4 linked regions of the Homo sapiens genome follow. The protein of the gene in region 3 interacts with the protein of the main gene of each other region in a pairwise test. Each region holds a gene or a part of one and is shown on either strand. Other genes may lie near its edges.

Evidence for each region.
Region 1: the proteins of STX11 (region 3) and DUSP29 interact in binary tests that used the Homo sapiens proteins (3 or more experiments, as listed by UniProt).
Region 2: the proteins of STX11 (region 3) and RNF8 interact in binary tests that used the Homo sapiens proteins (3 or more experiments, as listed by UniProt).
Region 4: the proteins of STX11 (region 3) and BACE2 interact in binary tests that used the Homo sapiens proteins (3 or more experiments, as listed by UniProt).

The regions. Positions count from the first base shown.
Region 1 is NC_000010.11:75,036,736-75,043,281, forward strand, and holds the end of DUSP29 (dual specificity phosphatase 29), read right to left. Parts: intron 1,343-6,546; coding exon 1,101-1,342; 3' UTR 737-1,100; downstream 1-736. UniProt on the Homo sapiens protein: Dual specificity phosphatase able to dephosphorylate phosphotyrosine, phosphoserine and phosphothreonine residues within the same substrate, with a preference for phosphotyrosine as a substrate. Involved in the modulation of intracellular signaling cascades.
Region 2 is NC_000006.12:37,391,476-37,395,602, reverse strand, and holds the end of RNF8 (E3 ubiquitin-protein ligase RNF8), read right to left. Parts: 3' UTR 869-4,127; downstream 1-868. UniProt on the Homo sapiens protein: E3 ubiquitin-protein ligase that plays a key role in DNA damage signaling via 2 distinct roles: by mediating the 'Lys-63'-linked ubiquitination of histones H2A and H2AX and promoting the recruitment of DNA repair proteins at double-strand breaks (DSBs) sites, and by catalyzing 'Lys-48'-linked ubiquitination to remove target proteins from DNA damage sites.
Region 3 is NC_000006.12:144,188,248-144,193,045, reverse strand, and holds the end of STX11 (syntaxin-11), read right to left. Parts: 3' UTR 1,107-4,798; downstream 1-1,106. UniProt on the Homo sapiens protein: SNARE that acts to regulate protein transport between late endosomes and the trans-Golgi network.
Region 4 is NC_000021.9:41,163,047-41,171,546, reverse strand, and holds the start of BACE2 (beta-secretase 2 isoform A preproprotein), read right to left. Parts: upstream 3,388-8,500; 5' UTR 3,284-3,387; coding exon 2,972-3,283; intron 1-2,971. UniProt on the Homo sapiens protein: Responsible for the proteolytic processing of the amyloid precursor protein (APP).

The sequences.
Region 1 (6,546 bases), on a different chromosome or scaffold from region 3:
CCATGCCTGGTCCTTGACGGCCGGCATCTCCAACAGCAGCAACTCTCTTTGGTTTCTGTCTGGTTTGGGATTCCTGGCCCTGGAAGCTGTCACTACCCGCTTCATGTCTGCTGCCGTTTTCTCCTTCAGAGTGGAAATCACGCAGCCATCGTGCCTGGCTTAGCTCTCAGGGAGGCAAACTCCACACCTGAGCTTACCTGGCTGCCCCATCGTCCCATTCCACAGCAGACAACAATTTGCAAATACTTTCTGCTATGACTGAAAAGCAGCTCGTGTTGCTTTGACTAGAACCCACGTGAAAAGAGCCTCCCTGAGGTCCCCGCTAGAGAGGGTCTCCTCCCTTTTTTTCCCCAAAATTAGAAAGTCAAACTCCTACTTGTCCAAACTCACCACAATTCATTGAATTTTTCTGAGTAGTGGCAGCCCTGGCTAAGAGTCTGAGGAGCCCTGCGTCCCTTGGGAAAGTGGGGGAAGCCTAAAGCAGGGGCCTCTGTACAGAGGTTCAGGACCCCTCCCCACCCTGCTGGAGGAGCACATCTAGAGATGGTGGCGTGAGCCTAGGGGTTCCGCTGAAAAGACAAGCGGCGTGCAAGGGATGCCACAGAAACGCAGGATGCCCGGGAAGGAGCCTCCACAGCTACGCAGGCACTCCCGTGACACTGCTCACCTGGTACGGTTCTGTGGTTGGAAAAGCAATTTCTATTTTAAAATACTTTTTATAAGAAGATGACTTTCCTTTCAGACAAAGCCAAACGTTTAATCACAACATACTGCCTACACATTTTAAAATCTTTTCCCTCTTCCTTCTCACCAAAAAAACAAAACCAAAGCAGGAGACTTGGTGCAGCGTGGCATGCTCCTCTGTGACCCAGAGCCGGGGAGCCCGTCCCTCCCATTTTGCTGAGAGGCTGAGCGCTCAGCTCTGCCCGGGGGCAGCTCTGGGTCCTCCCTGTCCCCAGCACACATGGGGAAGTTGAACAAGATGGTTTGGAAGAGTCGAGCTTCGGTTTCACCATCCCTTCTCTGGAGTCCTAGGCCAGGGCTATGTTCTGCCTCTCCCCTCTGTCCCCAAGTGCCTCTGCTGGCCCTGTGAGTCGGGCCTACAGCTCCCTGCCATCCTCCTCCTCACCGTCCTGGCGCTGGGACCGTCGCCTCTGCTGCACCAGCTGCTTGTCCAGCTCCCGGAGCTGCTTCAAAAAGCCCCGGTTCGGGAGGACGCAGCGGTTCTTGGCCACTTGCTGGATGGCGTCCACCAGGGTCATGTCCTTGTGGATCATCAGGTAGGCCAGGACCAGGGTGGCTGACCGGCTGCGGCCCATGACGCAGTGAACCAGGATCTTACCTGCAGATGGAGCAGGGAGGAGAAAACCCACACTGAGGGGCAGGTGTTGGGGGCACAGGTAGGGCCCACTCCCATCCTGACTGTCACCCTCTCGCCCACAGAAAGTGACTCAGCACTGTGCCCCACAGCTGCCTCTGTAGAACGGGGACACTCTCGGTGTCTTCTTCATAGGGTTGTTGAGAAGGCAAATAACCCTGTAAATAACTCGATTTTAGCACAATTTGTTTGTGCTAATGAATGGCTGCTGAGCTCCTACAGTGTGGCTGGGCTGCCTTTCCCCTGAGCACCATGGCCAGAAAGCAAGCACCCACTTCTTGATTGCTGTTTCGGATCTGGGGGAGGCTGGTCCCAGGTTCTCCCTGGCATGACCGCGCTCCTGGGGTGTGAACGTGTCCAGCTGGATGAATGTCCACCCCTGGCATTCAAATCCCACGGACCTTTCTGGAGGCTGCCGGGCCTCTGGCCAGCCCTGCTGATAACCAAAGCGTTTCTTCCTCTCCCAGAAAACAGGGTAATTCTTTCTGTCATGACTCAGTACTTGAAACAGATGAAAGCTGTAGTTCATTAAGCCTTTTGGGGGCCTGAATTCTGTTAAGTGGCAGAGGGGAGGGGAGAAAGAGTTGGAAGGGAGATGGAGGGGGTGGGAGGAGAGGGGGAGGTGGAGGGAGCAGGAGAGAAAGGGGAAAAGGAGGGACAGAGGACACTAAGCTCTGGTAGGAGTTCCAAGAGCTGAATTTTGTTTCCAAGACTAGGGCATGAGGCCGGGCGCGGTGGCTCACACCTGTAATCCCAGCACTTTGGGAGGCTGAGGTGGGCGGATCACTTGAGGTTGGGAGTTCAAGCTGGGTGAATGCACATGTGTTACTATTGGAGGAGTCAGGCCTATTGAGAAGAATCAAGGTCCAGGCAACACTTTTGTTCCTTCTTGTGGTCAGATTAGCTGAGACCCATCATGCCAGAGCACATCTCTTACCATCACAGGGGCCAGCACTATACCTGTGTTGGGCTTTTATTTCCCAACTTCTGTCAGAGCTCCTAGGGTCCCCCTGGCCAGAGCACACTTGTTGCAGTGGGAGAGATCAGCGCCCCTCTCATGCTTGGAGATACTTTTCTTCATGACTACAGTCAGAGCCCTTGAGGCATGCCTGACCACAGTTCATCTTTAGGAACAGCAGCAGCTAGTGCATACCTATGCTTGCAGGTCCTTATGTTCTCACATACAGTCAGAGCACCTGGAGCCCATGTGGTTAAAGCCTGGCCAACATGGCAAAACTCCATCTCTACACAAAAATTAGCCAGTCGTGGTGGTGCACCTGTAGTCCCGGCTACTCAGGAGGCGGAGGCAGGAGAATTGCTTGAACCCAGGAGTTAGAGGTTGCAGTGAGCTGAGATCGCGCCACTACACTCCAGCCGGGGCGACAGAGCAAGACTGCATCTCAAGAAAAGGAAACCCAAATCCAGAATCTCTACTGCTCCTCAATTGCATGCTTTTAGGAGTGACTGGAAGGTAGGCCTCTGTCACGAAAATCAGACGTAGGCTAAGACTGTTACCCTGCACCACGCTCCGCCCCGCAGCCAGGTGTGCTCCTTGCTAAGCAGACTCCTTCCTTGCTTTCAGGAGATGCTTTCTGCCCATCTCCCATGCACTATCTGGGAACCTGCCTTTCTTAGTAACTTGCAAAGAAATTCTGGTAGAGCCCTTACTTCTTCCCAAGAGGTTCTAGGTGTGTGGAAGTTCTGAGAAACAAGGTGCAAGGTGTATTATGAACTGCCGGGGCTGGAGGGAGATAGGGCAAGAGACCCTTCCAACAGTGAAAATCGGCTGGGCGTGGTGGCTCATGCCTCTAATCCCAGCACTTTGGGAAGCCGAGGTGGGTGGATCACTTGAGGCCAGGAATTGGAGACCAGACTGGCCAACATGGTGAAACCCTGTCTCTACTAAAAAATACAAAAATTCACCAGGTGTGGTGGTGGGCACCTCCCAGCTACCTGGGAGGCTGAAAGAGGAGAATCGCTTGAATCCGGGAGGTGGAGGTTGCAGTGAGTGGAGATCACGCCACTGCACTCCAGCCTGGGTGACAGAGCGAGATTCCGTCTCAAAAAAACAAAAACAAAAACCAAACAGTGAAAATCTGGTCGGTTAAAGCTTATTAGAAGCACCAGAGAATCAACCTCCTGCTTGAAAGCAGGCTTCATTTATTTATTCATACTTCCCTTATCCATAATATATTTTAAGATGCCTTCAGAAGCAGGCCATGGACTGCCAAAAGGAGAGCGTGATACTAAAGTCTGATCTTTAGCGCCTCGTGGCATTTGCCCTGGAGTTTCTTAGAAGACTTCATTAAATTAAAACCACACTAATTCACCTCGGAGGATGCCGAATCGGGGGCAGTTAAAGCAACCCAAGTGGGGTTCCTGTGACAGTATTTTGTGAGTACTTCTTTTTCTGATGAAGAGTGACAAATTCAGTTTTTTCAGATCCTATAACCAGCTGGCATGACTCGCCCTCCATGATATTCGGTGACCTCTTATACAGCAAAGTCACCAGGTGCTCAAAATAAGGGCAGAGGACTCTTCTGTGAGGCCTCGGTGACAGAAGGAATCCCCGCTGGTAGGCAGGTGTCCTGATGGCGCTGCCTCTGATTAGCTCTGTGACCCTGGGCACCTCACTTGTCTTCTCTGGGCCTCTGTTTGCCCAGCTGTCAGGGCAGGACCAGGGACTGGATTATCTCCGAGATATTTTAAGAGTGACTGAGGTTGCCTGGGGAGTTCTTTATAAAGGGTCAAGTCAGGGTAGTGATGGGATGGGAGAGGGCCCCAGGGGCTGATTACAGCCCACGAGTACAGCTCCACAAGGAACGCTTTTCAAAAAGAGTGAAAATGACCGGCTGTGAGAAGCCAGGTAGGGGGAATGGTGTACACTTGGCTGAAACCAGTCAATGAGAACAAAGAACATAGACAAGAGGAAGCAAGGAGTGATGCCTTGCTTTTTGGCCAGACTGTCTATCCACACCACTTACATAGAGAGTGTAAGAAACATACAAGTAGGTCCAGCACTAAAATGCCAAGCAGTGTCCCTTGCCTAGACACAACTGCATGTGGCAGGTGGGCTGAGCACCTGCCGTCCACTGGGTATGAAGTCTGTGGCATTGCTGCTGCTGAGCTAGCGGGCATTTTGTTTGGTTGCTCTGGCCACTCAGGGCACAGGTTACAACCTGATGGCCATTGGGTTGCTTTAGTCTGTCCTTTGCAGCATTTTAAGAAATTTCAATCTGTTGCCAAGACCTAAAAATCGAGTGATTTTATAATCCAGATTGGAGACTTCTGAAAAGTCAGATCTCCCACATTTGCACTGACTCTCACAAGACAAGCATTAGCTGAGGCTGGGTGGCAGGTGCCCCTCTGAAGGGGTACAGGGCTCTCTGCTTAGCCACAAGTGCCCCCTACCCACACCCCTCCGCTGTACATGCAGCCATCTTCATTTGTTTACACTCTGCATGGTTCTGCAGGGTAGGCGTTTGAGCCCTGACTTGAATTATTTAGATATGCCAGTGCAAAGGTGCTGAGAGCAGAGCCTACCCTGCCATCTCCAGTGGGGTCATGTCCTGCTCCCCATCCCTAGCCATCTGGTCGAGTCCCGGCACCCCCATCCATTCATTCTATCCCACTCATAGTCTCTGATCCAAGTATCTACTCTCCTCCGTTGGCCCTTTGTTTGCTAGGTGCCACCTGGTCTAACAGTCATGATCCACAGCAGCCTGACACCTCCTCATAATGTTCTGTCATCTGCCTAGGCCTAAGCTTCAACTTGAGAGCCTGATTCTTTCTGGATTTGGCAGTGGGGGCAGACCCTAAAATTGAGTGCCAGGAACCTACAACAAGCTTTCATGTGAGTATATCTTACAGTTCAAAGTTGGAATGTCTTTTTTTTTTCTTTGAGGATTGGAAACTTTACGATGATGATGTGCACATGCTGGCGTGGTTATATGCTTCACAGTGTATGACCACGCTTTATCAAATACATCCGAGAGCCTGCTGTCCACCAGGTTCTATGCTAAGCGCTTTACGCGCGTTACTGCTGATCCTCATTATAACCTCTGAAGGTAAATATTTTTATCACCGGATGGAGAAACCAAGGCTCAGAGAAATCACATCGTTAGTAAATTGTGTGACAGAAATGTAAACCCAGCCCTGTCTTCTCCGAAGCCTGCCAGGCCCCTTCCATGAAGGGTAAGGTCTAAAATATAGTAATGGCAAGTGAGTGCATTAAACAGAAACTGAAGGATTAGGTTGTTGCAGTCTTTGTTTTTTTCATGTCAAATGTGTTTTCAGTTAACTTCAAATACTATGAGGCAAATTTTACCTTGTGGTGATGACTCAGTTCAGTTGTGTTTTTGATCCTGCTTGGAAACCCAGAATGTACACAGCACAAAAGATGGTTCATAAATAGACTCATAAAAGGAAGGCCTGGAAATGAGGCATCTTCTAATACAGGCATGTTAGCTCTAAGGGTTTTTTTTCATTGTGACATTGCTTTCTGAGCCAAAATAATGACAAATTGTTGGTGGCTATGGTTGGCTGTGGGGCCAGGGCCACCTTGGGATGTCCATTAAGGTCTGATATTGTCCAGCAGACCTGGCCTAGGCCCAGCCCCAGGTTGCAAGTTCCTGCAGCAGACTATTTGGTCAGTCACTGAGCCTTGTAATCACAACCTCTTGTGGCAAGAAAGGCTTTCAGTAACCAGATACCCTGAATTATGTGATGGCTCCACAAAGGGGTGTGTGACACATTGGGCTGAAGTCAGAGCACAGATTAGGGAGCTGAAGTCCCTCTGGCCTCTGTGGAATTCCACTGAAGTACACCCTGCAGCAATAACTGTATATTGTCTTACCCCCGATGCGTCCCTAAGCTGTGCCCTTCTCTCCAAAATAGCCTTGTAGCCTTTGCTGGATTAGGGTAGCCAACAGTGCATTCTGAGCACAAAGACTAGCACTGTGATTTAAAAGCTGGATAATTAACACTGGGAAAACTTGGACGCTGGGGGTGCAAAACCCAAATTATACCTCAAATACAGCGTGCCAGTAAAGCCCAGCTTGTCAGCTTTCTACTGGAGGCCTCACGAGGCTGAGTGTAACTGGGGAGTGTAACTTGGTTGGTGGGCAGGAGAATTTAAGGTCTCTCCATGGATTCCCACTCAAGTCAGC
Region 2 (4,127 bases), about 110 Mb from region 3:
TTAACCGCCTATCCAGGGGTGGGGAAAGCTCCAACTTACAGCGTTTGCCAATTTCCATGGTGTGAATACTACCACCATGGCTGATTTCAAACTACCAACATGACCTCACTGAATGTAGAGTTGGGAAGAGACGCACACCATCAGCTGCAGAGCCAGGGCGGCACTGGGAGAGGCCCAGGGAAGACGGGCAGGAATTGAGATCAGGAGAGCACCCTCATAGCCAGGCTGAAACTCACAAAGGCTCATGGTCCTGAAAACTTGTCCAGCCCCATCCACCACTAGGTTAAGTTTGGTGCCAATATTTGCATCAGAAACATTCATCTGTGCTTACCTTGGCTGAAGTACCTGAGGCTTCCACAGAGGTCTCCTGGGTGCCTGCCTACACAGGACAGTGGTATGTGGTGCTTCAGGGCCTATTCTCCATGCTAAAAGGCCAAACTTGCCCTGAAACCTGCCACAGAGATGCCCTTGAAGGCCCCTGGGTAGAGCTGGGTAGAGGCCCAGGACAGCTTGATCTCTAAGGAACTGGTCCCTACATCCTGAGGGCCGGTGGGTGGTGGTAAAAGCAGCAGGCTGCAAAGGCTTGGGCTACCCAGGTCCTAGAGATGTGAAACGCCAGTTCTGGATCTTGGGATGGGCCAGCGTAGCCTGCTGGATCTCCTGCGTGGAGGTTGAGGAATGTGAGGAAACACCCAACATTGCTACCTCAGTAGGTAGCAGTGCGTAACCCCCTCCCACAGCATCTCATAAAACCTTTGAAACGCTTTTGACACCTTTCTAGAACATCAGCTCACAATGGTTGTGTTTTGCTCATTGCCATACCAAACACCTAGAGCAGTGCCTAGTAAGAAAATGGGCATTTGATAACTATTGCTGAATTGAATTTATTGAATACATGCAGAGTACAAACGGCCCCAAATCACAGCAGGTTGAAGTATTCACAGAGCCTGAAGGAAAGTGGACAGCAGAGATAGTGGCTCTGGAAATTGGATGAGGTGGGCATCTGGAATGTAGTAAAGCAGCAGCAAGCAGGAGATACTGCTTGGCGACTAGATGAGCTCAGGTAGCCCATCACTGGTACATTGTTTGGGGATGCTGTAGACAAAGGAATGACAGCATTGGAGTATTTATTGAATGCCTATCACAGGCTGAGCCCTTTCCTAGGATTCATATGCTTTTCTCAATGGAAGAATCAAGAAGATAGTTCATTATTTCTCCTTAATACAAGGCCCCATCGTCTTCCCAAGAACCCCACACTCCTACTGCCTCAACTCCCATTTGTTGGAGAAGCTGAAAAAGCTGACCAGGTAGGAAGTTTCTTTCTCTGAATGAAGCTAACTAGGGTTCAGAACAAGCCCTTGACCTATTGTGACCAATGGCAGATCCTGTTCCAATCAGGCCCCACACCTATGAACAAGTCTGTATCTCAGAGCAAGAGACAGATAACAATTCCAGGATTCTCCTGATCTTAGATTAGGACCACAATACAAAGTAGACATTCCTTCTTACTTTCTATGTCAAATTTAGCTAATCACTGGATTCATCAGAAGCCTAGGGGGTTCAGTGTCGAGATAAACATACCTAGGACACCCCATGTTTCTGGGTTATCCTTAGATACGATGAGGTGGAGAGATTCCAGTCACAGAGAGAGGCTGTAAAGAGCAAGCAGGCAGTTGGAGAGAGCTACCAATCCCAGACACTCCAGCAGTTATGGTGACTGCCTGGATGGTCACTCACAGAGGAGGAAAAAGTAGTGAGAGAACTGGAGACAAGGGGGAAATGCAGGTCTTTCTGTACAACAGCAGCTTCCAATCAGAGAAACAGATGATGGGTATCCAGCTATGCAATCCACAAAGGACAAAGTCCCCTGCTTTGGCACAGTCTGATTGTTGGGATGAAACATGCCTAGAGGTAGAGTGAGCCCTTTCTAGGTTAACATAACCAGATATGGGACACCTGCCATTCACTGCAAAGTGCTTCATATAGCTGGCTGCATTCATCTGCTTAATAAAACCAGATAATGAAACAAACCCCCTTTTCCAGTTCCCCAGAGCCCTGCTGTAAAGAAGGTGCCTTTAATTAGAGTCAGACTGCACAGCACTGGGGCTCAGCTGTACTATAGTTTGATGCTGCAAGGCAGAAAAGTTACCGTGTATTTTCTAGGCAAGTAAAATGCAGATGATGTTTAATATCAGATATCTCTCCAAGGAAAGAACATTCTGTAGCTCAGACAAATAATGCAAGTTTGGGTTAATTTTTGGTTTGTCTTTTAAACATAGTACATTCAGGCTTTTGTTTGTGATCAGGGCAATAATGACAGATATAATTACTTAGAGATGAAGAAACCAAAACCAAGACACAAGGAGGCTGAGTAACTTGCCCAAGGCTCACACAGTTACTAACAGCAGGGCCAAGATTCAAACTCCGCTAGTCTGGCTTTTAATGTTGTTGTATTGATTTATTACTCTTTTTAGTCTGTCTTTAAGAGCTCACTTTCCTAGATGTTGTGGAACACTTGAGAGGGATGTGGTACTCTGAAAGGAGGGGCTGCAAATCACTCTATGTCCAGCAGCTGTGGGATGGAATGGTCAGTCTGTGAGGTCAGTCTCTGTACATAGTCTTCAGGCTCAAGTCAAGATGTCTCTTCTTGGCCAGGTGCAATGGCTCATGCCTGTAATCTCAGCACTTTGGGAGGCCAAGGTGGTAGGATTGCTTTAGCCCAGAATTTCAAGACCAGCCTAGGCAACATAGTCTCTATTAAAAAATAATAAAATAATTTTTAAAAAGGTATTTCTTTTTAAAATATCTTCTCTCTAAAGATATATGTACAAGGGTGTTAACTGCAGCATTGTTTTAAGAGTAAAAAGGTTTGAACCAACCTAGATTTCTATCAAAAGTAAGCCAGAAAAGTAAATGATGGTGCAAATACACAATGAAAAAACAGGCAGCTGTAATAAAGAAAGGAAACTATGTACTGACATGGAACTGTTGCCAACATATATCTGAAAAAAGCAAGGTTCAGAATAGCGTACAGTTTACCATTTGTGCAAAGCAAGGAAAAAGACCACATGTGTTTTTGCTTGTATAGACAGAGATCTCTGGAAGAATATACAAGCAACTGTAATACTTGTTGCCTCTGAGTGGGAAGTAGTCGCTGTGGGGAAAGGGTGAGAGGCATTTCATTCTACGCCATTTTGTACCTTTAATTTCAAACTATGTGAACATATTGCCTACTCAAAAAGTGTATGTCTGTACTCTCTTAAAAATGAATTACAATATGTAAACTAAACACAGAACATATAAAAATTGACATATACCCATGCAATCTATAAACAAAACACATGTATGGGGAAACAAGAAGTTATTAAATCAAGGTGGTAACAATCTTTTCCTTTTGTTCTCTATTTTTCCAGAATTCTTATGATGTGGTTATAGTAAGTACTTTTAAAGCATTTTTTCCACATTTAACTTACTTCCTCCATGACTCTACCAGTATTTTGATCAGTAATCATGGGCAGAAGAATGGAAATGAAGACTAAGGACTCCAGAATCCCAAAATTCACAGTATATTCAACAAAGAAAAAATCCCTACCATCCTTAAAAAGTTGGCAATCAATAGTTTCCAACCCTTTATGAAAATACATGGGGTATAGGCTGGGCGTGGTGGCTCACGCCTGTAATCCCAGCATTTTAGAGGCCTAGGCAGGTGGATCACTTAAGGTCAGGAATTTGAGACCAGCCTGGCCAACATGGTGAAACCCTGTCTCTACAGAAAAACAAAAATTAGCTGGGTGTGATGGCATATGCCTGTAGTCCCAGCTACTTGGGAGGTTGAGGTGGGAGGATGGCTTGAGTCTGGGAGGTGGAGGTTGCAGTGAGCTGAGATTGCACTACTGTACTCCAGCTTGGGCAACAGAGTCAGATCTTGTTTCAAAAATTAAAATTAAAATTAAAAATAAAGGAGAGGTGGAGAAAAGAGAGAAAACTTCTAATGTAAAAGAAAAATAAAGAAAAAAGCACATCAAGTTGTCATAAAATCATTGCCTGTGTGTTCATGACGTCAGATAAAATAGATTTGGAAACATTCAAATGCCAGCTGAAGGAAAGGAGTTTCTCCCACCCCTGAA
Region 3 (4,798 bases):
CTTCCACTTCACCTTCTGCCATGATTGTAAGTTTCCTGAGGCCTCCCTGGCCATGCCTCCTGTACAGCCTATGGAACTGTGAGTCAATTAAACATTTTCTCTTTATAAACTACCCAGTCTCAGATAGTTCTTTATAGCAATGTGAGAACCAACCAATACATGAAATGTATATTTAAGAATGGTTAGGATGGTAAGTTTAAGTCATGTATATAATACTGCAATTAAAAACAACAGCGTAATGACAACAACAACAAAAAGGCACTGTGGCTGTACTATAGCATTGTACAGAGATTAGACTGGAGAGGATAAGACTAGAGGCCAGAGGCCAATTAAAAGCTGCTGAAGTAATGGAAGCAAGAGAGGATAATTGTCTGACCTGGGCAGGTGGCAGTTGATTGATCCTGCCATTTGCAAGTTAAGATAGACAGAAGGAGCAGGGGATGGGGACGATGGTAGATTCTGTGTGTGTGTGTGTGTGTGTGTGTGTGTGTGTGTGTATACTCTGTTATTTTTACCCTCTATCAAACATTATGGGATGCTGAGATACAGAAGAGTGGATATGTCTAAAGAGTTGGCTATAGGACCATGAAAATATAGAAATATAGACTAAGAAAAATAGAAGAGGTCCAAGAAGTGTCTATAGATGCTTCAAATAGAATATAAAATGTAACTTAAAAAGAAACATCAGGAATTAAAAAATATAGTGTTGGGGACTTGTCTCTCAATCCTCATTTTGCAGGGCATCACTGGTTTTATTGTTGTTGTTTGCTTGTTTTTTGAGACAGGGTCTCACTCTGTTGCCAAGGCTAGAGTGCAGTGGTGCGATCTCAGTTCACTGCAACCTCTGCCTCCTTGGTTCAAGTGATCCTCGTGCTTCAGCCTCCAGGGTAGCTGGGATTACAGGCATGCACTGCCATGCCCAGCTAATTTTTGTATTTTCAGTAGAGAAGGGGTTTCACCATGTTGGCCAGGCTGGTCTCGAACTCTTGGCCTCAAGTGATCTGCCTGCCTTGGCCTCCGAAAGTGCTGGGAGTATAGGTGGGAACCACCATGCCCGGCCAGATATCACTCGTTTTAAAGCATCCTTTGTAGTCTCACTCAGAACATCAGTTCCGAAAATCTTTATTATCAATAGACACATGACTTTACAAAAGCTTCTAGTATATAAGGACATCTTGCCCATTCTTAATAACGTGTTGATAACAAAGACACTCATCATTTATATGATGAAGTTACATTCTAGATCCTATTCGTTTTCCATTTCTAATAGCCCCATTTTATTAATTGCAATGATTTTCAACTCCGCTATCAAAAGGAAGTCAACTGTTGCTCTGATTACAATTGGGTGTTTCAAACTATCGTCTTGATTACAAATGAATGAGTTGCATGCTGCAGTTGGAGATACTTCGCATACTTCAAAGAAAGGAGTAGAAATATGTCTGATGGTAAAATATAGAATGATAGAATTTATACATAAAAATCAAGACTATAGTTACCCTATTTTTTTTTTTAAGCTGTACACAATCTTCAGTAGTTTCCTGTCAAGTTAGGAACTTTATATGTTAGAGCCTGAACATATCTGCATATGACATTTAACTATAAAGCATTAGGACTGTTTTTAAATAAATGTAAAGGCATTGATATAAAAAGAGTACTGTTCTCTTTTTAAGTTGTTACCTTAAAAGGCCATAAAATTACTTCTGTGATGTCACAGTTCAAATATTTTTGAATGACTGACATTTTTAAAATTCTAACTCATATTATCCTGGATACCGATGCATACTAGATGAGCACCTTTCCTAGTTAGGACATTTCTGGAGTTGTTACCACCTATAATCTGTGGCTTGGTGGTAGTTGTAAAATTTGATATTTGGCTAGTAGAAAGTAGTCACTGTATATGTTAAAATAGCTATAAAAGATTCTTACCTTCAGCTCCTGAAGGATCTATTGTTCTTTGTGATTTGTTCTTTCATTTTGTACCCTAAAAGATATGAGTGTATAAAATTTGCAGAATTGCCACAAGGTCTTCTTGGCCAAAGTCACCTTTCAGAGTTGCCAAGCAAGCATCATGAGATTGGTAAAGCCAGCTCTACAGCATCTCTTGGTGGCACTAGAACACAATTTCTTAAGGAAAAAGCCAGCATTTCACCCACTGCCTGGTGTGGCAGTCAGAGCCAGGAAGGGCTTTGGTGAATAGGCCAGGACGTGCAGTGGGCCAAATGATGCCTTCTCTTAGGTCAGTGACCCAGCCTCTACAACTTCCTACAACTCCTTCCAGGACTTTCTGACTCACAGCTTGGGAAGAATTAGGAAAGAACACCTGCCAAGCTGAGCAGAACAGCTGCTTCCTGCTTACGTGTTTTTGGTGGAACATCTCATTTCTTCTTCAGGACATGTTTGGATATACACAGGGATAGAAATGCCATAGTGAAAACATCTTTATGACTGTCAAAAAAAAAAAAGCCCTAATATTCACAGAAGATGGGGTCTTGGTTTCTTTATTCCATTTTATTATTTATTAAGACTGTTAACAAAAAATAGGCTTTATTTTTCCTCTGTACTTAAAAACTATAAATTTACTTGGGTCACTAACAGTGCTCTCAGTCTGAGAGAAAATTACATAATAACAACAATAATGAACAAAGCACTTAGCATGTGCCAGGCACTGTTCTAGGTGCTTTTACATATTCAGTCATCACTTTTCACAACAGCTCTATGAGGTAAGTACTGTTATCTCCGTTTTACAGATGAGGAAACTGAAGCACAGAAAAACCAAGGTTCAGTCAGACAGCTAGTATGTGGCAGAGTCAAGATTTAAATCTAAGAAACAGGATCTGGAATCTGTACTCCTAACCATTACGCCACACTGAGATGGTTCCCAAACAGCAGGAAGAAGAAGTGTTCTTTCCCTATAGGTAACAGTTCACTCATTCTTTTGGTGCAGTAATGGACAGTCTGTACCGAACTCTCCAATATAAAACGTGAGGAATTAAAATGTATATAGAGCCTGAAAACTCACTTACTTTTATAATGGTTCCAAGCAAAGAAAATGCTTTATGGGTTCAAACATGTCAAATTTATGAACTCTTCGTTTTTTTGTGGAAACTGGCTGGCAGTCTCTATTTACAATATCTCTCCTCTATTATAAAAAACATTGCAGTGGAGCTATGTGAACATTTTTTCCCCTTTCCCTTAGAGAAAGCAAATTAAGTCAAAGGTGATACATATCCTTGGAGTTGGCTGAAAAAGAAATTGGGAGAAATATGAGAATAGCCTTGTGGAACTTGGTTTCCACAATTCTCAAATTTAACCATGAAATTAAAATTAGATACAGGGGATAGATTTTCCTGGTCATAAGCAAGTCAGGCAGTGAGCTCCAAAGAATTCACATACTCCTCCTTCTAATTCTTTTAAAATTCCAGCTTCTAAAGGACCTGAGAAATATGATCACTACTAAACTCACTCATGTATTAAATAATGATTAGGAAGAGCTAAGAGTTGACACAGAGGAAGGCCAGGAAACATGGTAAATGTGGGTAAGGGCATTAAGAAGTTTGCAGACTACACCATATCTCTAAAGCCTCATGATTTTGCTAAAGTATTGTAACTCAGGAGAGAAAGCAAGACACCCTCATGGGAATTCTTTTGAGTTTTTCATTCTTTTCCCCCTCCACTCAGTTCCATCCAGATGTGGCAGCCTCAGTAGCTAGTAGAAAAAAAATTTGGCCAGGGTCAGTGGCTCAGGCCTGTAATCTCAGCACTTTGGGAGGCCAAGGTGGGCGGATTGCTCAAGCTCACAAGTTTGAGACCAGCCTGGGCCACATGGCAAACCCTGTCTCTACAGAAAATACAAAAATTAGCCGGGCATGGTGGCACATATCTGTAGTCTCAGCTATTTGTAGGCTGAGGTGGGAGGATCACTTGAGCCTGGGAGTTTAAGGCTGCAGTAAGCCATGATTATGCCACTGCACTTCAGCCTGGGTGACAAAGGGAGACCCTGTCTCAAAAGGGGGGAAAAAAGGCCAGGCATGGTGGCTCACACCTGTAATCCCAGCACTATGGGAGGCTGAGGCGGGCGGATCACGAGGTCAGGAGATCAAGACCATCCTGGCTAACACGGTGAAACACCGTCTTTACTAAAAACATAAAAAATTAGCCAGACATTGTGGCACGCGCCCAGAGTCCCAACTTCTCAGGAGGCTGAGTCAGGAGAATCGCTCGAACCTGGGAGACAGAGGTTGCAATGAGCCAAGATCCTGCCACTGCACTCCAGCCTGGGCAACACAGTGAGACTCCATCTCAAAAAAAAAAAAAAAAAAAGGAAAAAGAAAAATTTTAACAATAATTGAGAAAGTAAACTAAATGGTCAAGCCAGAAATGTATAAAAATATGTGTATAATGTAATGTTTATTAAGCTTGCTTGAAAAACAGAATTCTTTTACTTTGAATTTCTCCATTTCAATGCATGGAAGGAATGGTCCACAGTAAAACAAAAGCAGTATTTCCAAGAATGTTAGTTGTCTCTAGCTCCGTATACATTTTCTACCGCCATATGTCTACCGCCATAACCAATGCAGAGTTGTTTAACATGAAGTTTGACCCAAACTGGACTAGGAAGGGGCAAACTGGAGTGAAACAAACTCAAAACAAGCAAACCAATACCAAGAGCCAGAAAAGTGTTCGTCTTGAAATTTATATACCATACTTACATAAAAGAAGTTAAACCAATTGATCATTATGTACATATATTAGTGAATATTAGTATTTTACATTTACATACATGTGCATATGTAATCAA
Region 4 (8,500 bases), on a different chromosome or scaffold from region 3:
ATGGGATCAGCCGCAAACCTGGCAGTCATCTCCATGCCAACGTGGCCCTGCCTGCCAGCACACACGCCTTGCAGCTCTCAGGCGGGCTTCCGGGCACATGCCTGTGACTCCTCACAGAGTCACTGGGCTTTAAACAATGGACCTCTAGTTCCTGATTAAAGCCTTCGGGGAACAAGCACACTTCCAACAGTTGACTTTCCCATAAAAGAAGGGGAGCTGGAGGGCTCTGGTTCCTGTTGAACCTCTCCTCTCAAGGCCTCTCCCGTGCACACCTGGATCCAGCCCTTCATTCTGTTGCTCATTCAGCAGTGCTGAAGGAAAGAGGAGATGGGGGAACAGCACGGAGTTCCGGAGGGTCCAGTTGCAGTCATACAATAAGTCCCTAACACCTTGGGGTGTACGTTCAGGGTTCTCTGGCTAGAAAGGGTAGTTTGAGGCCAAAACCAAAGAGATCAGGAGGCATGAAGGGAAGGAAGTCGTTATCTGTCTGGTGGTTCAGAACTTGGCTTCTGAAGTTCAGCTCCCTGGCTTCCATTTTTGGCCCTCCCTCTTTCTTGCCCTGTTGCCCTGGAAAGTCATTCAGTCTCTCCGAGCTTCAGTTTTCCCACCCCCAAATGCGTATAAGACCCCCGAGGGGTGGTGGGTGGTGGGTGGGGATTCCTGGGAAAGCACACCTAAAGCACAGAGCGCAGTGCTTGTCACGTACTGAGCTTTCAGACATTGTCTATGACTATTACTTAATTCTTGAAAAATTCTTGGTTATTTATTGCTTGAATTTACAATTCCATTTTTCTCTCCACCTAAGCAATTTTTATTTTAGGCTTCAGAGAATCAGCAGAGAATAAATGCATGACTCCTGGCCATTAATAGAGCAGGAAAGCTCACTCCAGGTTCAGAAGTCACCTCACTGCTGCCCCCTCTAGCCGGCTGCTGACACCCTGCTGGTGGTCAGAGACATTTCAGGGCAACACAGGCAGGTAGTGAATCCTAATGCAGTAGTCAGGAAAGCCTGACTTTACAGTAGGCATTTGGAAAGATTTGGTTATAAAGCAGCTTATCGCTAAATCAAGCCAGGAGGGAGGTACAGGATATTTCATTCCCCATCACATGTAAAAATTAAATCTGTCTCTGTAGAAGCAGCGCTCCCTGGAAACATGCTAATGGTTGAGAAGTAATCTTGAACCAACTACTGCCTTGGCTACGGTAAAGACAGGAGCCTAGGTACTCAATACATTTCTGTTAATTAAATTAATTAAACCTCATCATTTTAAAATAAAGGTCATTGAATTAATTAACAGGCAAGTTATTATTTATAAAAGCTTTTTTTTTTTGATTGCCAAAGTTAAGTATTTTTTAGTCCTTCTTCAGGCTTCTCCCTTTCCCCTTTGCTCTGGAGGGAGGGTTTCAGGGCTTCTTTTATCATAGCCCTCAGACCACCCACATTTACTTTTAGTAGAGAGAATTCCCTCGCATCAAAGCACACATGTCCAATGGGGATTCATTCAAGGCCTGTTCCAAAAGATTCTCTGCAGGTCACAGAAGAGGTTCTTCCTCAATATCTTGTCATATTTCCAAGGTTCTCAGCACCAGGCACATGTTCCCACGTGTTGGCTGCACCAAGACCACATCTTACAGCCAAGTTAAGCTCCCTCAGCTGATGGGGATTCCTATTCCCTCCCTCTAACCATCCACTCCTGGAGATGGCAAAGATCACTCACGTGGCTTCCCATGACTTAGACGAAAGGCAACTAGAATCAAAGTTTGAATATACGCTTTTGAAGGTTTTTTTTTCCCCCTAAACTAATTAAACAACTACAGAAGTTATTCGGCAGTTTCCTTTTTTAAAAGAATTAGCATGGCATGTCTTTCCTCTTAAAGTCTTGAATAATTTAATGAGAATTATACAAAAGTCATGAGTATGTTCTATTTATGGGGGAATCATAGCTGAATCAAAACCCAAATGACAATGTTAAAAATAAAAATAAACTATCTTCAAATAGTGCATTCAATTGAGCAAAGGACTTCAAATCCCACTTGGATTAGACAGTTTGAAAGTAGGAGGGGGCAGATCAATTGGGATTTTTTTTTTTTTTTTTTCAGATCACTGTGCTTGGGAACATTTGTTTCTTGCTACAAAAAGTGTTAGTAAATGAACATCAGAGTAAGAGAAAAGGAAAGCTGTTTGATTTTATTTTTGTGTTGTAATCGGGATACCACTTGGTCCCCGGACACCTCACTCAGCCCCTGTTTTTTTCCCGGTAGCTGGAATGCTTTTCACACTCTGCACACCCGCGTGTAGATGCATCGCTCCGTGCAGAGGGGCAGGGCCGCCGGATGAGCGAGGACACAGCTGACAAACCAACTCCGAGAAAGGAAAGCGGGCGCAGGGGAGACGCTGCTCCTTCCTCAGAGCAGCAAGCGAGCCACTTCTTAACCGGGTTGCTTTTAGCTGAGCTCATGCATAAATCCTTTTTAAAGGGTACTGCGCCTTTGGAAGCCGGCCACGAGCCTCTTTAGCAATGAGACAGCATGGTGGTGGGGTGGGGGGGGGGCGGGGGGGAGGGAGGGTATGAACACGAGGTGATTTTCCCCATAATAGCCCGTCGCCCAAGGCCCACCGCTCCGTCTCCCGCTGGAAGTAGGTGTCGCCCGCAAGAAGGAAATCACGTTATTGGAGGCGGCAAGTTCCAGGTCTCCTCTCCCGCCCAGCCCCGCGGAGGGGGAGCTCACAAGTTCTGAAACACTCGCGCACACCCCTCAGTGCGCCCCGGGCGGGGGCTGCCGTCCTCCGCGACTCAAGAGCGAGCGCCCCCGCTCCCCGGCCCACCCGAGCCCCTCTGCGTTCCCCGCTCTTCTGTGCGGGGACAGCTGCTGCTTTGGGGGCGACGCTAAGCCGCGTGGAGGCGTCTCTGGACAGCCCCCTCCCTCCAACGAGCCCGAAAAGCCCGCGGCAGCAGCCGGGGGTCCCTACCTTCTGCGGGGGGGTCCCGATCAGCATCTCCAGGTAGTAGCCGCGGCCAGAGTCCCCCTGCAGGTTGTCTACCATGGCCAAGAAGTTGGCGGCGCCCGCGGGGGACGCCAGGGCAGGCTCCAGGGCGAGCGCCAAGCCGTCGGCGTGGCGCTCGGCAGGGGTCCCGGGTCCCGGGGTGGGCGCAACTACGCGGTTCGTGGCCGCGGCCACCCGGAGGGGCAGCGTGAAGGGCGCGGGGGCCAGCTCCGGGGCGGCGCGCAGGAGCCACTGGGCCAGCAGAGGCAGCAGCAGCGCCCGGGCCAGTGCGCCCATGCCCACGGCGGGGCCCGGGGGGCGCGCCCAGCCTAGCCGGTCCCGTCCCGTCCGGCAGCCGCGGCTCAGCGACTCGGCCGGCGCGCGGGGCTGCGGGCAGGGATGGGCGCGCACCGGGACCGGCGGCGGCGGGGAGGACGGGAGGAGGGCCCAGGGGAGGAGGCTCGCGGGAGGGGAGGAGGCTCGCGGGAGGGGAGAAGGCGGAGGCCGGGGAGGCGGGCGCGGAGGCGCAGAGCCGCCCCAGCCCGCGCCGCCAAGTTGGGCAAGTTCTTCTCCGCTGCCCCCTCTGGCGGCCGCGACTGCCCCGCAGCGGCCCAGCCCCTCCCCCGCGGCCAAGGTCACAGCGGGGCTCGGGGGGCGCCGGGGTCCACCTGCGCCTGCCCTCCCCACCCTCGCCGGGCTCAGGCCGCGCCTCTTCCCCGGGAAACTCGAGTCCCGAATTTCCTCGGAAAGCGCCCCAGCGGCCACGGCCAACGGATGTGACGAGGCTCATCTGATACCGGGGGGAAAGTTTCGAGAACCCTTAAAGGGGCAGCGAGGGCCTGAACTAGGGCCCCGGCCCCGCGCGCTTGGGGGTCCGCGGGGGTCTATTCGCCCGGCAGTGGCGGGAGCTTCCGGGGGTGACTCGGAGGTCAGCGAGGAGAGCGGTGGATCGGGAAGGAGCCTGGAGCCTCGCGCGCCTTTCCGAGCCTGCGCCTCCCCTCGCCAAGCTCCTCCGCCTCATTTCAGTCGCCGGGTCTGGCTGCTTTCGAGGCGTTTCCCGTCCGCTGCCCCCGAGCCCCCGCCCTCAGTCCAGCCCGTTCCCCGGCCTCATCCCCCGGCGGCCCCTGGGTGGTTTTAAAGAGGTCTCAGTGGAGGCTGGGAGGGTGGAGGGTGGAAGGAGGCAGAGGAGGATGCGAGAGCTTTGGAGAATTTTCCCTAAAAATCGGGGGAGGTGGGGGGCGTGGCTGCTGCTGGCGCCTGGCCCCAGCCTCATTGCCCCCCCTTACTCCCTCTGTTGCCCACAGCTAGCTGCGAAGCTGGGCTTCACCCCAGCCACCTTCCCCCCACCCCCGCCCCCTTCGCCCCCTCCGCCGCGCCCCTGTCCCTAATGCAGGTCAGATGCTACTGGAACCCGCTGCCTCCCCTGGCACCCAGCCCTCAGGCCACCTAGTAAGTTGCTGTCAGGATCCCAAATCAGGGCCACGAGTCCACCCTGCTGTGATCCCTGCCCTTCTCCCCCACCTCCCCTTCTATCCCCAGCCAGCTCTCTGCGGACTGTCTAATTAATACTCGTTTAGCCATAGACGCCAAGACGCAGAAATGCGTTGAGTAATGCAAGCAACGAGGGTTATTTTATTTTAGATACTAAAGGCAGGGGGGACAATTAGACAAGCTAAAGTCCATCGATTTCTACAGAAACAAGGAATAGAAAATTCTTTGTACCTCCTCCAGCTGAATTATGTTGGCTGTTTTAAAAAACAAACAAGCCCATCTTCAAACAGTGGGGAGTTAGAAGCCAAGCTTCCCCGAATCACTGCAATTTTCAGCTACTTCTACTCAAGATTTGATTTTTATTCCTGTGTTCCCAATTTTAGAATCACGTCTAGCTCTGCAAGGGACCTTTATGTCAGAGATCTTCAAATGTATTGATTTTCAGATGACTTTAACCATAAATCACACTTCCCCCAAACTATATCTCAACTTTAACAAATCCCCAACTCCATGAAGAAAGGCATAGCTGGATCCCGTGATATAACTTAAGTTGATATTCTCCATAAATCTGCATAGTTATTCCAGAGCCCTTCTATTCATATATTCACGTTTCAGATTCAAGGTTGTGGAGGGAATGTGATTTTTTTTAAAATGATTATTTATACTCCTTGGTGTCCAGTCTTGAGGGGTTCAAAAAGACATTCAGACAGCTCTGGGAAGAATATAATCTTTCTGAAAAGCACATGAAATGTATTAGGGCCATTGATAAAGAGGCTATGTGACATATAAGTTTAATACTAGAGACATTTGCTCTGTCTAATAATTAAAAGCCACAAGGGAAATTTTTAAAAAATCAAGTCTAATTAAAGTTTGTACAAGAAACGCGTGACTCAGTCTAGGGTGAGTATTCCTAAGCTTTTCATTTTAAGAGGGATGGTTTGGGTTTGTGGGGAAAAGGATGCATAAAGATCCAGGGATGGAGGAGCACACAGGCTTCCATGGATGGCAGAGCTGTCTTGTCAGAAAATAATGCAAGCTGAAGGGACAGCATTGGGTGACTGTCTCCTTGGTTGTCTCTGTTTTCATGAATGGTCTTAGAGCATATGATCCCTATTCAAGCCTATGGTGCTGGGTGGATTTGGGAGACAATAATTTTACTTTCCAGGTGTTGGAACTGAAATGATAAGTGGCAGCCCTCTCATGGAATAGCATTGATTTTTAAACCATGGTGACCGATGCAGGGCAGAGAAAGGAGAAGGTGAGACCCACCCTCCTGACCTCACCCCTAACATCAGAGGACATGGGATACTGCCCTGCTCTTCCTCACTCCACCAGAGCCTCCAACTCCTTCCCTTCTCCTTACAGCCTCTCAGCACCCTCGTTTTCAGCCATGGCCTTCCTGAGTCCATTCAGGAAAACAAAAGCCCTGCAATTAGATGGGCCTTCTCTCCTTGGAAAGAACAAACATCACCATTAAACATGACCCTGGACGGTGGAGAGCGAGGAAGGATCTCACTCTCCAGCCCAAATGACTAATAGAAGATTCCTGGTAGGAACGTGTGGCGCTCAGCCAGAAAGAGTCACCATCCCATGTTCCACTGATGTTTGTTGTCTCTCACTGCCAGCTCCCAGTTCCTTTTACACCTGCGATTGTAACCGGGCCTATGTTAGATGAATCATAAGGTGTTTGTTTTCCTTTATCGTGGTCCTTGGCTTCCTCCAGGCATGCCTGTTTGCACATAGTCCTTTTAATAGAAGGGAGTCCCTTGTCATTAACTTTATATCCTGGCCCCAAGCCTCCTCACATGATTAATGAACTTGTTTTTCTTTTAAAGAACAATGATCTTTAGGTTAGGCAGATCTCTTTGATGGCATCCAGAAGTTTGATCGGGCTGGGCCGAGGGACGCAAACAGCTTTGATCATGGGGGATCTTACCTCCCACATACTTACCTTACCCATAGAGGCGCCAGCTGTGGTCCTGAACTGATTCAGAAATTTCAGTATTCTGAATTCTGTATTTCTGAGGCCTTTAAAAAAATGATCCTTTGATATATCTACTGAAAAGTTCTGGAAACAATAAGTATCCTTAGTATCATATTAGGGTTACTAAATATCACTTCCCTCCAGAGAGAACCAGGGCTTTTTGGAGAAGGCTGATTTTATAAACTGAATAAGATAACCCTAGAATATCTCATCACACCAGAAAGCAAGGATGTTATCAAAGACTTCTGAGGTCTTGTCATAAGCTGGGGCAAAACGGAGACAATTTAAACATCATTAAAGGCAGTAACTGCAATGCCTCAAAACACTTCAATTATGTTGAAATCTATTTGCTCATAATGTTCTTTTTAAAAGTACATTGATTATCTTTGAAGAATGCTAAGAAGCCCAACTCATTATTTTTAAAAGCTGGTAAAGAAAGGAAAGGGATCAAGCATGTATTATCTTAACTTTCCTGTACAAACTATACGTCAGTATAAGCAAATAGTAGATAAAGGCGAGTTTCTCTTTGTAAAAGTATTGCAGCTAATAAATGAAGGGACGATAGAATTAGAATGTTGCCATTTTACTTCCCTTAATGAGTTAATGAATCTGGACACCGAATGTACATGGCTGATAATATTAGAGGGAGAGGGAAAGAGAAACACCCTGACATTCTAAGCCTTCGGATGGAAATCCGCAATGCTACCCATCTATGACATGTTATCGCCAAACAAAACAAAACAAAAAAACCCTGAATCTGAACAAGCCTGTACATCACAGGTTAGCAATCTGCCTTCTTGGGACCAAATCTGGCCAACTGCCTGTTTTTATAAATAAAGTTTTATTGAAACACAGCCATAGCCATTCGTTTAAGTCATAGCAACAAAGACAGAAGGGCCCACAAAGACCAAAATACTTGCTGTCTAACCCTTTTCAGTGAAAGTCTGCCAACCCCTGCTATAGATCAAAAGAATCCCAGTACCCCTATCAGTCTCTTGCAATAGATGGACCTTATTCAGTCCTGATTTGAACAAAATGACAAAATTGTTTATGAGACAATTAGAGAAATTTGAACACTGGTTGGATGATATTATGGAATTATTGTTAATACTTTAGGTGTGATAGTGGTATTGTGTGTGTGAGAGCTCTTATCTAGTGGAGACACATGCTGCCATATTTATGGATGAAATGAGACTTGTTTCAAAATAATGTGGGTTGGCAAGGATTTCAGGCAATATTCTCAGTTATTTAATACAAAAATGACCCTATTAGCAGGCATTATTATCATTCTCATTTTACAGACGAGAAACTGAGGCACAGAATTGATAGTTGATTGGTGAGAGGTGGGAATGGTATTCAGAACCCTGGGTCTGATTTCAGAGCCTGTACTCTTCCTCATGGAGCCAGGGCCACCCCTTTGATGTGAACTTTCTGGAGCTCATGGACTGCCCCAGCTGGAGAGGCCTCCAGAATGCCACCCGCATCCTGGCAGGACACAGAAAGTGCAATAGGCCAGTGGAACCCTACAGGCTGCATCCATAACCGGGCACTTAACAGACATATGCTGAACCCTCCCTGTGCCAAGCTCCACGCTAGAGGCGGGCTCACATGGGCGAATAACACCCAGAAAGCCCCTTCCATCAGAAATTACAATTTGGCAGGAGACAGACTGACTGTAAATATGTTTCCTTTTTGGGAACACCACTCTAGCTTCTAGGTGGAGGAGAGTTGGGGGTGGTGAGGCTGGAGACAGGGAGACCGATTGGGAAGCTGCTGCGAGGATCCGTGAGGACAGTGGCGATGGGCGTGGGAGGGGGAATTTAGCATTTAGTGCTTAGGAGATGAAGCCCTCGCAGCACAGGGAAGAAGCATCATAGGACTCTCATGTGATGGGAGCACTCAACACACAGCCATCTGCATCATAATCTCTCCTGTTTGCCTGGTGCTGGTGCTGTTCAATTTTCAGAGCAATATCACAAATCCTGCCTCATTTTGCTCCTCAAGCAGTGGGAGGCAGGGATGGTAGGGATGATAATTTT